Homo sapiens: one gene and its partners. The protein of the gene in region 1 purifies or fractionates together with the protein of each later gene. This does not show direct contact. Each region holds a gene or a part of one and is shown in the gene's direction. Other genes may lie near its edges.

Evidence for each region.
Region 2: the proteins of FBXO24 (region 1) and PSME3IP1 purify together in Homo sapiens (affinity purification with mass spectrometry; one large-scale study listed by BioGRID and IntAct). This does not show direct contact.
Region 3: the proteins of FBXO24 (region 1) and NUDCD3 purify together in Homo sapiens (affinity purification with a luminescence readout; one large-scale study listed by IntAct). This does not show direct contact.

The regions. Positions count from the first base shown.
Region 1 is NC_000007.14:100,596,149-100,599,027, forward strand, and holds part of FBXO24 (F-box only protein 24), read left to right. Parts: intron 1-2,879. UniProt on the Homo sapiens protein: Substrate-recognition component of the SCF (SKP1-CUL1-F-box protein)-type E3 ubiquitin ligase complex.
Region 2 is NC_000016.10:57,169,040-57,172,539, reverse strand, and holds part of PSME3IP1 (PSME3-interacting protein), read left to right. Parts: intron 1-167; coding exon 168-289; intron 290-3,500. UniProt on the Homo sapiens protein: Promotes the association of the proteasome activator complex subunit PSME3 with the 20S proteasome and regulates its activity.
Region 3 is NC_000007.14:44,407,029-44,410,762, reverse strand, and holds part of NUDCD3 (nudC domain-containing protein 3), read left to right. Parts: intron 1-3,734.

The DNA.
Region 1 (2,879 bases):
CATGCCTGCAATCCCAGCTACTCAGGAGGTTGAGGCAGGAGATTCTCTTGAACCTGGGAGGCTGAGGTTGCAGTGAGCTGAGATCGTGCCACCCTACTCCAGCCTGGGCCACAGAGCGAGACTCCGTCTCAAAGAAAAAGAAAAAAGATGTGAGCAGGGCATCGTGGGTTACATAAGACTTAGGTAGGGATAGAGAAGGCATTCTGTGTGATGAGGAGGGGGATAGGCACGAAACTTGCACATACCTGGGACAGTGACAAGACGGGTCTCACTAAAGCACAGAAGGCATCTTGGGAATCACTGAGGTATGAGGTGGTACAGGTGGGCACAAGCTTAGAGAGGTGTAGATTTGGGGAAGAGTCACTGCAGGTTCTGGAATAGGAGAAGGCAACCCCCAAGAGGTGACTGAGAATGTGTCAGGAGCCTTGTGCAGAGGAGGCCAAGGAGGGGAGCCCGCCAGGAGGCTGTTGAGTGATGACAGCACTTGAGACAAGCGCCTGGTGCTGCAGCGAGAATGGGAAGGAATGGATACAGGAGCTATTTGGGAAGAAAATGAATAGGGCCTCAAAACTGATTAGATGTAGAAGAGAGGGGTATAAGACAGAGGTGGCTCTGGAAGAAAGATATCTCACACCTGTAATCCCAGCACTTTGGGAGACCAAGGTGGGTGGATCACGTGAGCCCAGGAGCATGAGATCAGCCTGGACAACATGGTGAAACCCTGTCTCTAGAAAAAATAAAAAATTAGCCAGGTGTGGTGGTGGGTGCTTTTAGTCCCAGCTACTCGGGAGTCTGAGGCACGAGAATTGCTTGAGCCTGGGAGGCAGAGGTTGCGGTGAGCCGAGATCGTGCCACAACATTCCAGCCTGGGCAACGGAGAGAGACTCTGTCTCAAAACAAAACAAAACAAAAACCACACTCAATTGGAAACGTCTAGCTGGCAATTAGATTCTACCTGGGAACATGGTTGAACAAACAGAAGTAGAGACTGAAAAGCAACTCTGAGAAGTAGGCCCTGTGGTAGACAGGGGATGAAGAGGTGCCTCTAAGACAGGCCGTGCACCCCTCTAACACTGTCCCAGAAGCCACATGAGAAGGAAGTTCCAAATGGGGTGGGTGGTAGGGTTAATTGATGGTGTGACAATGTAAGATACATTTACTACTGACATGGAAAAGATAGTCATGCCATATTTTTAGGTGAAAAAGACTTTTATGAAATGGTTTACATAGTACCATTTATTTTTATTTTTATTTTTATTTTATTTTCAAGATAGAGTCTTGCTCTGTCTCCCAGGCTGGAGTGCAATGGCGCGATCTCGGCTCACTGCAACCTCTGCCTCCCAGGTTCAAGTGATTCTCCTGCCTCAGCCTGCCAAGATGGGATTACAGCGCCCACCACCATGCCCGGCTAATTTTTGTATTTTTAGTAGAGACGGAGTTTTACCATGTTGGCCAGGCTGGTCTCAAACTCCTGACCTCAGGTGATCTGCACACCTTGGCCTCCCAAAGTGCTGGGATTACAGGTGTGAGCCACCGCACCCAGCCTCTTTTTATTTTTATTATTACTTTTTTGAGACATGGTCTCCACTGCTTCCCAAGCTGGAGTGCAGTGACACAATCGTAGCTTGCTGCAGCTTTCAACTCCAGGGCTCAAGAGATCCTCCCGCCTCAACCTCCCAAGCAGCTAGGACTACAGGAATGCGCCACTACGCCCAGATAAGTTTTTGTTTTTTTTGTTTTTTTTGTTTTTTTTTTTTTTAGAGACAGGGTCTTGCTATGTTGCCCAAGCTTATATTGAACTCATGGCTTTAAGCAATCCTCCCACCTCAGACTCCTAAAGTGCTGGGATTACAGGTGTGAGCCACCACACCTGGCCCCATCCCATTTTTTGTTTAAAAATACACAACTTGCCCATCATGGTGGCTGACATCTGTAATCCCAACTACTCAGGAGGCTGAGACAGGAGGATTGCTTGAGGCCAGGAGTTGAAGGCTGCAGTGAGCTGTGATCACCACTGCACTCCAGCCTGGGTGACACTGAGACCCTATCTCTAAAAAATAAAAAATATACAATTTATGTGTATTTGTTTGTTTAGCCAACAGTGAAGAATATCTAGCAAGATGTTAATAGTAGATGGTGGGATTTCCAATGATTTTAAAATTAATTTTTTGCTTGCCAATGTTTCATAATTTTTCTAGAATGACCATAAATTACTTATCAGTGTCTTCAGAATTAAAGCGCTAACAGGCTCAGGAGAATGAGGGGGCAGAAGACGCCCTGGGATTTAGCCACTGAGAGGCCAAGTGCCTCTAGAGAGAGCATGTCAGTAATGTAATAGAGAGAAAAGCGAGATCCCAGGGAGGTGCTGGATAGACTGGCTGTGGGAAGGAACAGTAATGTGGTCAGCCTCAGATTGGTCATGTAACCAACTCTGCTGCTTAAGAGAGAGAGGCAGGAAGCGGCAGGAAGCAAGTAGAAGCTTTTTTTTCAAAAACAGGGTGGCCATTTTGGAAAAGAATTATGTGATAAGTTGAAAATGCTAGGCTAAGCATTTCAACTAGCTCACACCTGTAATCCTAGCACTTTGGGAGGCCAAGGCAGGTGGATTGCCTGAGCCCAGGAGTTCGGGACCAGCCTGGGCAACATGGTGAAACCCCGTCTCTACTAAAATACAAAAGAAATTAGCCAGGTGTGGCGGTGTGCACCCATAGTCCCAGCTACTCGGGAGGCTGAGGAAGGAGAATTGCTTGAACTGGAGAGGCGGAGGTTGCAGTGAACTGAAATCGTGCCACTGCACTTCAGCTTGGGCAACAGAGCGAGACTCCGTCTCTACAAAAAAAAAAAAAATGCTAGAGGCTGAGGTGGGAGGCCCGGAGTTC
Region 2 (3,500 bases), on another chromosome or scaffold:
GCCTTGTTTTTTTTTATGCCCTGTTATCTATTCAAACGCCATGGTATTTACCAGTTCTTTTTTTTTTAATCCCCTGAAGAATCTGCTGCTTATTTAAAAAGGGGAAAGGAAAAATCTTATTTTTCCCTTTAGCCTGCTAAGTGTGCCTTGTTTAATTATTTCCTCAGAAAACATGGTAAGAGGCTTAGATGAAGATGAGACCAACTTCCTTGATGAGGTTTCTCGACAGCAGGAACTAATAGAAAAGCAACGAAGAGAAGAAGAACTGAAAGAACTGAAGGAATACAGAATATCCTTTGTACTTGGAGGAAAACCTGTAAGGTGTCCATTTTCTCATCAGCATCTATGGATGTTGTCTCCTCATCAACAGAAAGAGGGTTTTCTACCTGGTGATCTCTCAAGTCCCTTTGAACACTGATATTCCTGTAATTCTGAAAAGCTGGTAGTGGTTTGTGGAGTTTGTGTTGTGTGCAAGAGTGTTATAGTCAAAAGTCCACATCCTTCTTAGGGTTAACTCAAGGCATCAATCCTACTAGTACTGGGATTAGATTCTGACACAGGTGGGCAGTGCAGTCAGCTTCATCCAGGGGAGAAATTGGGCTCTGAGTTTTAAAAGAACATGTTTAGCAACTTTCCTATATTCTTAGTAAGATGTTCTCTAGTGGTATAGCATGCCCTGTCCTGATAGAAGGGCTGAGAAAGCAGCAAAGATGACTTTGCTCTAGATCAGTGTTGCCTTTTGGTCATCCACTTGAATGTCTTCATAGACATCCCAAATGAAACTTGGCTGAATCAAAATTCTCAATACTGTGCCACATCACCCCCACTCTCATCACACTGCCCTTCCCCAAAGTCTCTTCTTTTTCTGGTCCTCCCAGTCCCAGTAACTGGTAGTCCTATGCCTCCAGGTGCCTGGGCCAAGAACTGTTTCCAAAACGTACTCCAAATCTCTTGAATTGTTGGTATCTACTGCTACTGTAGTAGTAGTAGACTTTCTTCTCGACTCCTGTGACCATCTAATTGGTTTGTTTCTGCTCTCATCCTCAATAATCTATTCCTTAGACAAGAAAGGGAACTTTAAAAACCATACATGGCATCATGTCACTTTTCTATTTGAAACAGTCTAGTGGGTTCCCCTTACATTTAGACTAAAGTCTTACTCTGTATCAGGCCGTAGAAGGTTCTACATTATTTAGGCCAACCCGCCTCCTTCTTGCATCTTGAAGCCACTCTTTCTCATGTTGACTGTACTGCAGCCTGCTGGCCTTCTTTATGTTCTCTTTCACCATGCTTTCTGAGTCAATCTCAGGGCCTCAGACTTGCTGTTTCCTCAGCCCAAAATGTTCTGCCCTCAGATTTTGCAAGATGCATTTCACAGCTCAGCCCTCTGCTCAGCTCTCCCTTTTAGAAACCTTCCCTAAGCACCCCACCTAAAATTGCTGTCGGTAATATCAATTTTTTTTTTTGAGATGGAGTTTCTCTCTTGTTGCCCAGGCTGGACTGCAGTGGCGCGATCTCGTCTCACTGCAACCTCCGCCTCCCGGGTTCAAGCGATTCTCCTGTCTCAGCCTCCCAAGTAGCTGGGGTTACAGGTGCATGCCACCACGCCCAGCTAATTCTTGTATTTTTAGTAGAGACGAGGTTTCATCATATTGGTCAGGCTGGTCTCGAACTCGTTACCTCAGGTGATCCGCCCACTCCAGCATCCCAAAGTGCAGGGATTACAGGCGTAAGCCACCGCACCCAGCAAGTAATATCATTTTTTATAGATTTGTCACTATCTGAAAGTTGTCTTTATTTATTTGCCTACTGGTTTGTTTATCTCTTTCCTGCTAGAATGTAAAGTAAATGAGCTCCATAAGAAAAAAGACTATCTGACTTGGTCACTTCTGATTTCTCCAGTGCCTGGCATATAGTAGATTCTCAGTAAATATGTGAATAAATTAATAAATGATTCATAGGAGATATTAATAGGACCATTTATCTTCATGTGAGGAAGCTTATTTGGATATTTCAAGCTTATATGTTGAGTAACATCACTGGTGTAATCCAACAGGCTTCACGTCTAAGATGGACGACATTACTGTGTATATGTACTAGTTGGTATTTTCTTGCAGAGAATGTGCAGCACATTCCATTTTAAGAGTTACGTGGGAGGCCTGGACACAGTGGCTCACGCCTTTGATTCCAGCACTTTGGGAGGCCGAGGCAGGAGGATCGCTTGAGGTCAGGAGTTTGAGACCAGCCTGGCCAAAATGGTGAAACCCTGTCTCTGCTAAAAATACAAAAATTAGCCGGGCATGGTGGCTTGTGCCTGTAGTCCCAACTACTCAGGAGGCTGAGGCAGGAGAATCGCTTGAACCTGGAAGGTGGAGATTGCAGTGCGCCAAGGTCACGCCACTGTACTCCAGGCTGGGGACAGAGCAAGACTTTATCTTAAAAAAAAAAAAAAAAAAAAGCGTTGTATGGGAGAAGACATGGACAGATTCCCTGATTCCCTGGGAATTGATTTACATCAGAACTGGTAGGAAAAGACCTGGCTTCCAGTCCCAGTTCTGTTACTGGCATTCAGGTGCAACATGGAGATGGAAGCTCATGGGAAGTTATACCTCAATCTCAACTGTAGGATTGAGGCTGATTATTCTGAACTCCCCCTTCCCTGACCCTGATGACCCCAAAATAATATGTGTTCGTTTGTAGAGATAGGCAGATACCCATATTGTGTTGTTTCAGACACCAAGCTTTTTCCTCTAAGGAAATACATTCATTACACTTCTCACTTGAATGATATTATGTTTTATTTTGGTAGACTAGCAAATAAGACATATAGTGTCCCCCAAAGTAGCATCTGGGGAGAAGTGCTGTTGAGTGTGAGATGCCCTTTGGTTTTCAATTAAAAGGAAAGAATGAACAGGGCAGCAGTGAGACAAAAGAAACCTTTGTGTCCTGGTAACATTGCAGTACAATGAGGCTCCAGGGATAAGGGCTTTAACTGGAAACTTGGAAAGTTCTGTCTAGAAAAACTGAAGAAAAGCAGGCCTTCCAAGTCACTGACATCTAATACACTAATCCCAAGCATGCAAGTAGCCAGAGACATGTTGAGATAGGAATTGAAGGATTAGACATTTGTTTATTGAAGCTCTAAGTTAGGAACTGTTTCTAGGCTTTGCTTGATTACTATATGATATGTTGTATAATAGGATACTTCTGAATACAAATAAGCTGTGGTTTAAACCATGTAAATAACAGAACTCTTGTTTCGTCTCAGGTTAAACCAGTATTTAGCAGTATTGTGTATGTTAAAAAACGGTGCAATTTTAAGAGAATGCTGATCTAATGAATTTCTTGAGATTTTTGAGGTGTGTTTGTGTTTTTAAAGCATTTTGGGAGAAGAGGGGCTTAAGAAGGAAAAATTGCTTGTACTTTGCGGATCAAAAATAAGATTATTAACACCCCCTACCCCTAAAAGGTTAGGACTTTTCTTCATTTCAAAAGAATAA
Region 3 (3,734 bases), about 56 Mb from region 1:
TCTCTTGACCTCATGATCTGCCTGCCTCGGCCTCCCAGAGTGCTGGGATTACAGGTGTGAGCCACCATGCCTGGCCTGTTACTAGACTTTTTTTTTTTTGAGACAGAGTCTTGCTCTGTCCCCCAGGCTGGAGTGCAGTGGCAGGATCTCCACTCACTGCAAGCTCCACCTCCTGGGTTCACACCATTCTCCTGCCTCAGCCTCCCAAGTAGCTGGGACTACAGGCACCCGCCACCACACCCGGATAATTTTTTTTGTATTTTTAGTAGAGACGGGGTTTCACCATGTTAGCCAGGATGGTCTTGATCTTCTGACCTCGTGATCCACCCACCTCGGCCTCCCAAAGTGCTGGGATTACAGGCGTGAGCCACTGTGCCTGGCTGTTTTTAGACTTTTAATTCTGTTCCATTGATCTGTATAGATGCCTGTCCTTATGCCAGTACCACACTGTTTTGATTACTGTAGCTTTATAGTAAGTTCTGAAGATTTTATTCCTTGTTTTTGTTCTGTTCCTTCATTATTGACTTGGCTTTTTTGACAGTTTGATTATGACATCTAGGTGAGGCTGGCTCCCTTTTAGTTTATTTTACTTGGAATTCATTGAGCTTCTTGGGTGTAATTTTTTTCATGTCAAATTTGGAAAGTTTTTAGCCATTATTCTTTCAAATATTCTTTCTTCTTTTCTCTTCTGTATGTTGGTATGCTTAATAGTGTCCCTCAGGTTCTGTGACTCTGTTTATTTTTCTTCACTGTTTTTTCCTCCTGTTTCGCAGTTTGGGTAATCTCAATTGACCTGTCTTCAAGTTTGCTTGTTCTTTCTTCTAAATGCTAAAAAGTGGTTTTGAGCCCCTTTCATGAACGCTTATCTTTTCCCCCTTTTACTTTTGAACTCCAGAATTTGTATTTGATTCTTAAAAAAATGGTAATAATAATTTCTATCTCGTTATCAGTATCAATAGTGATACTGATATTTATTGATATTCTCTACTTAAAAGACGTTATTCCCATACTTTCCTTTAGTAATTTTTGCATAGTTTTCTTAGCTCTTTGAGCATATTTAAAATAGGTGATTTAGAGACTGTTTTCTGCTAAGTTCTTCATATGTGGGCTTCCTCAGGGACAGATTTTATTGATTGCTTTCTTTTTCCTATGTATGGGCCATACTTTGTTGTTTCTTTGTCTAATTTTTTTTTTTTTGCTGTTATTGAGAAATGGATTTTTAAATAACACAATGGGGTGACTCAGGAAATCAGATGCTCCTTTCTTCCCATGGTTGCTATTGGTACGTGATATAGTTGTTCTTGTTTAATGACTTTTCTGAACTAATTCTGTAAAGTTTGTATTCTTTATTGTGTCTGACCAGTGAAATCTGTACTTGGTGAACTTAGTGGCCAAGTAATTATTAGATGGCGATTTCCTTAAACTCCTGGGATCAGTAAACACCTGTTTTTGTCGAGGGGCTTCATCTACCTGTTGGAGCATACCTTCATTGCTTGGCCTAACAGTTAAAAACTGCCTTAGCCTTTATTTCCTGCTGATGTTGAGTCAAAGTCAGCCAGAGGTGAGAGCTTAAGGCCTTCTTAGGTTTTTCCTGAGTGTGCAGTGAAGCTCTGTACATTCATGTGTCTTTCTAGATTCCTGGGAAAATGTCAAAGCTTTTCAAAGCCCCCACGGACATTTTATTTCCCACCTTTGCCTTTGGTTTGCCTCAGTTGTTATCTGCCACCTCAGGAGGCTGCAAAGTTAAAACACTTGCCGTATTTTCAACAGACACTCCTGGGTTGGGAGGAAGGCTTTTCTGAGTTTAGCCAGAAACAGTCAGTCAGTCTTGCAAATGAGGTCTTACAGGGAACCATCAGACAGGTCAAATGATGACAGTTCTTTGAGAATGAAGCTTTGAAAGAGCTCTAAGAGCACTGTTTTCTCCAGCGATGGCTGCTACGCTGTACCAGGAATGCGGCCTGCTGAGAGCCTGGAGAGTGGGGATGGGTCTAGGCCAAATTAAAATATCACAGAGCTCACTGTTCTTACTGAGATGTGGTTGTTTTCCTTGAATTAATGCTCCCTGGGTTCCTGCAAACCTTTGGTTAGTTTCCAAAATCCATAAGAAGTTGATACTGACAATTTTTGCCAACTTTTTGGTTGCTTTTATGGAGGAGAGCTTTTTGGAGGCCTGTAGTAACCACCATTTTCACTGACATCCTTTGGATCAGGAATCTCTTAAATCTTTTTTGTTTTCCTGAGGGTTCTTGCTGCCCTTCTTTTTTATCTTGTTATCAAAAATAGTATACTTCATCATAACCTCAGAATTACCCAGATTCATTAATACTGAGTATTGTCTAGAAATCTCTTTCTGCCTGAACTCCACTCTAGACTGGTTATTTCCTGTTCTGCTGTATAGCTACACTCCTGGTATTTTCTTCCTGCGTTTATAGATTAAATGCAGTTTTTGGACTTGAGTTGGATATTCCTCTTTTTCAGTTTTCATCCTCATTTTGTTTTTCTCAAAGTGATATATAATGTAGAATTGTTGTATATCTTAAAATGCATTTATTTTAACTTTTCACTTATTTCTCAGTTTGGGTGTATGTAGAATTCTAGCTTAAAAATAATTTTCCCTTGTTAGGATTGAAAGGGATATCTTCTTACACTCTGTGTAATTGATTCTGGAAGTCTATTCCATCTCTTTGTGAGTAAGCTTTTTCTCCTCCTTGGAACTTTCAGGACCTTTTTAAAAACACCCAGTGTCATAAAATTTCATGAGTCTTTCATTCATTCTGCTTAGCTCTTGGTGGGACTTTTCAATCTGGAGGCATATTTTCCTTTGGCTCTGGAAAATTATCTTATTACTGTCATAATTTCTGGAATGCCAAATTGATTGCCTGAATTGATCTGTGTTTCTACCTTGATTTCTTTGACTTTATCTTCCAGCCTCTTTATTGAAGTTTAATTTTAGCTACTGTATTTTAAATTCTTGTGTTCTTTCTTTTTGGCCTAATTGTTCTATTTTCATATTTTATTCTGGTTATATGGATATAGTGTCTTCTCAGATCTCTGTGAAGACATAAAATAGAAATATTTTTGGATATCTTTTTTCCAAATTAGCTCTGTATTTTTTTTTAACTTGTTTTCATCTGCCTGTTTTTTCTCACAAGATGCAGTCTTCAGTTCTCTAGTTTTTTTTTTTTTTTTTTTTGAGACAGAATTTCACTCCTGTTGCTCAGGCTCCTGTTGCAATGGTGCAGTCTCGGCTCACCGCAACCTCTGCCTCCCAGGTTCAAGCGATTCTCCTGCCTCAGCCTCCGGAGTAGCTGGGGTTACAGGCATACAACACCACGCCTGGCTAATTTTGTATTTTTGGTAGAGACGGGGTTTCTCCATGTTGGTCAGGCTGGTCTCGAACTGTCAACCTTAGGTGATCTGCCTGCCTCGGCCTCCTAAAGTGCTGAGATTACAGGTGTGAGCCACCATGCCCGGTCTTTTTTTTTTTTTTAATACAAAAATATTTTTCTCCCATTCTCTTGAGTGTGGGACCGTATTGATGGGTTTGTCTACTGTGTGTCTGAAACCTGCTCGTCCCACCACCACCGACAGCTGAGTGGATTGACCAGTCAGCTTTGCTTTATAGGACATAGGGTCTTGGCATCCTAATGCTTGAGTGAGTAGGACTTCACTTGACACACAGGCATCCACACTAGGTCCTCAGACTGCTGGTCAGTGTCTTTGGAGCAAGG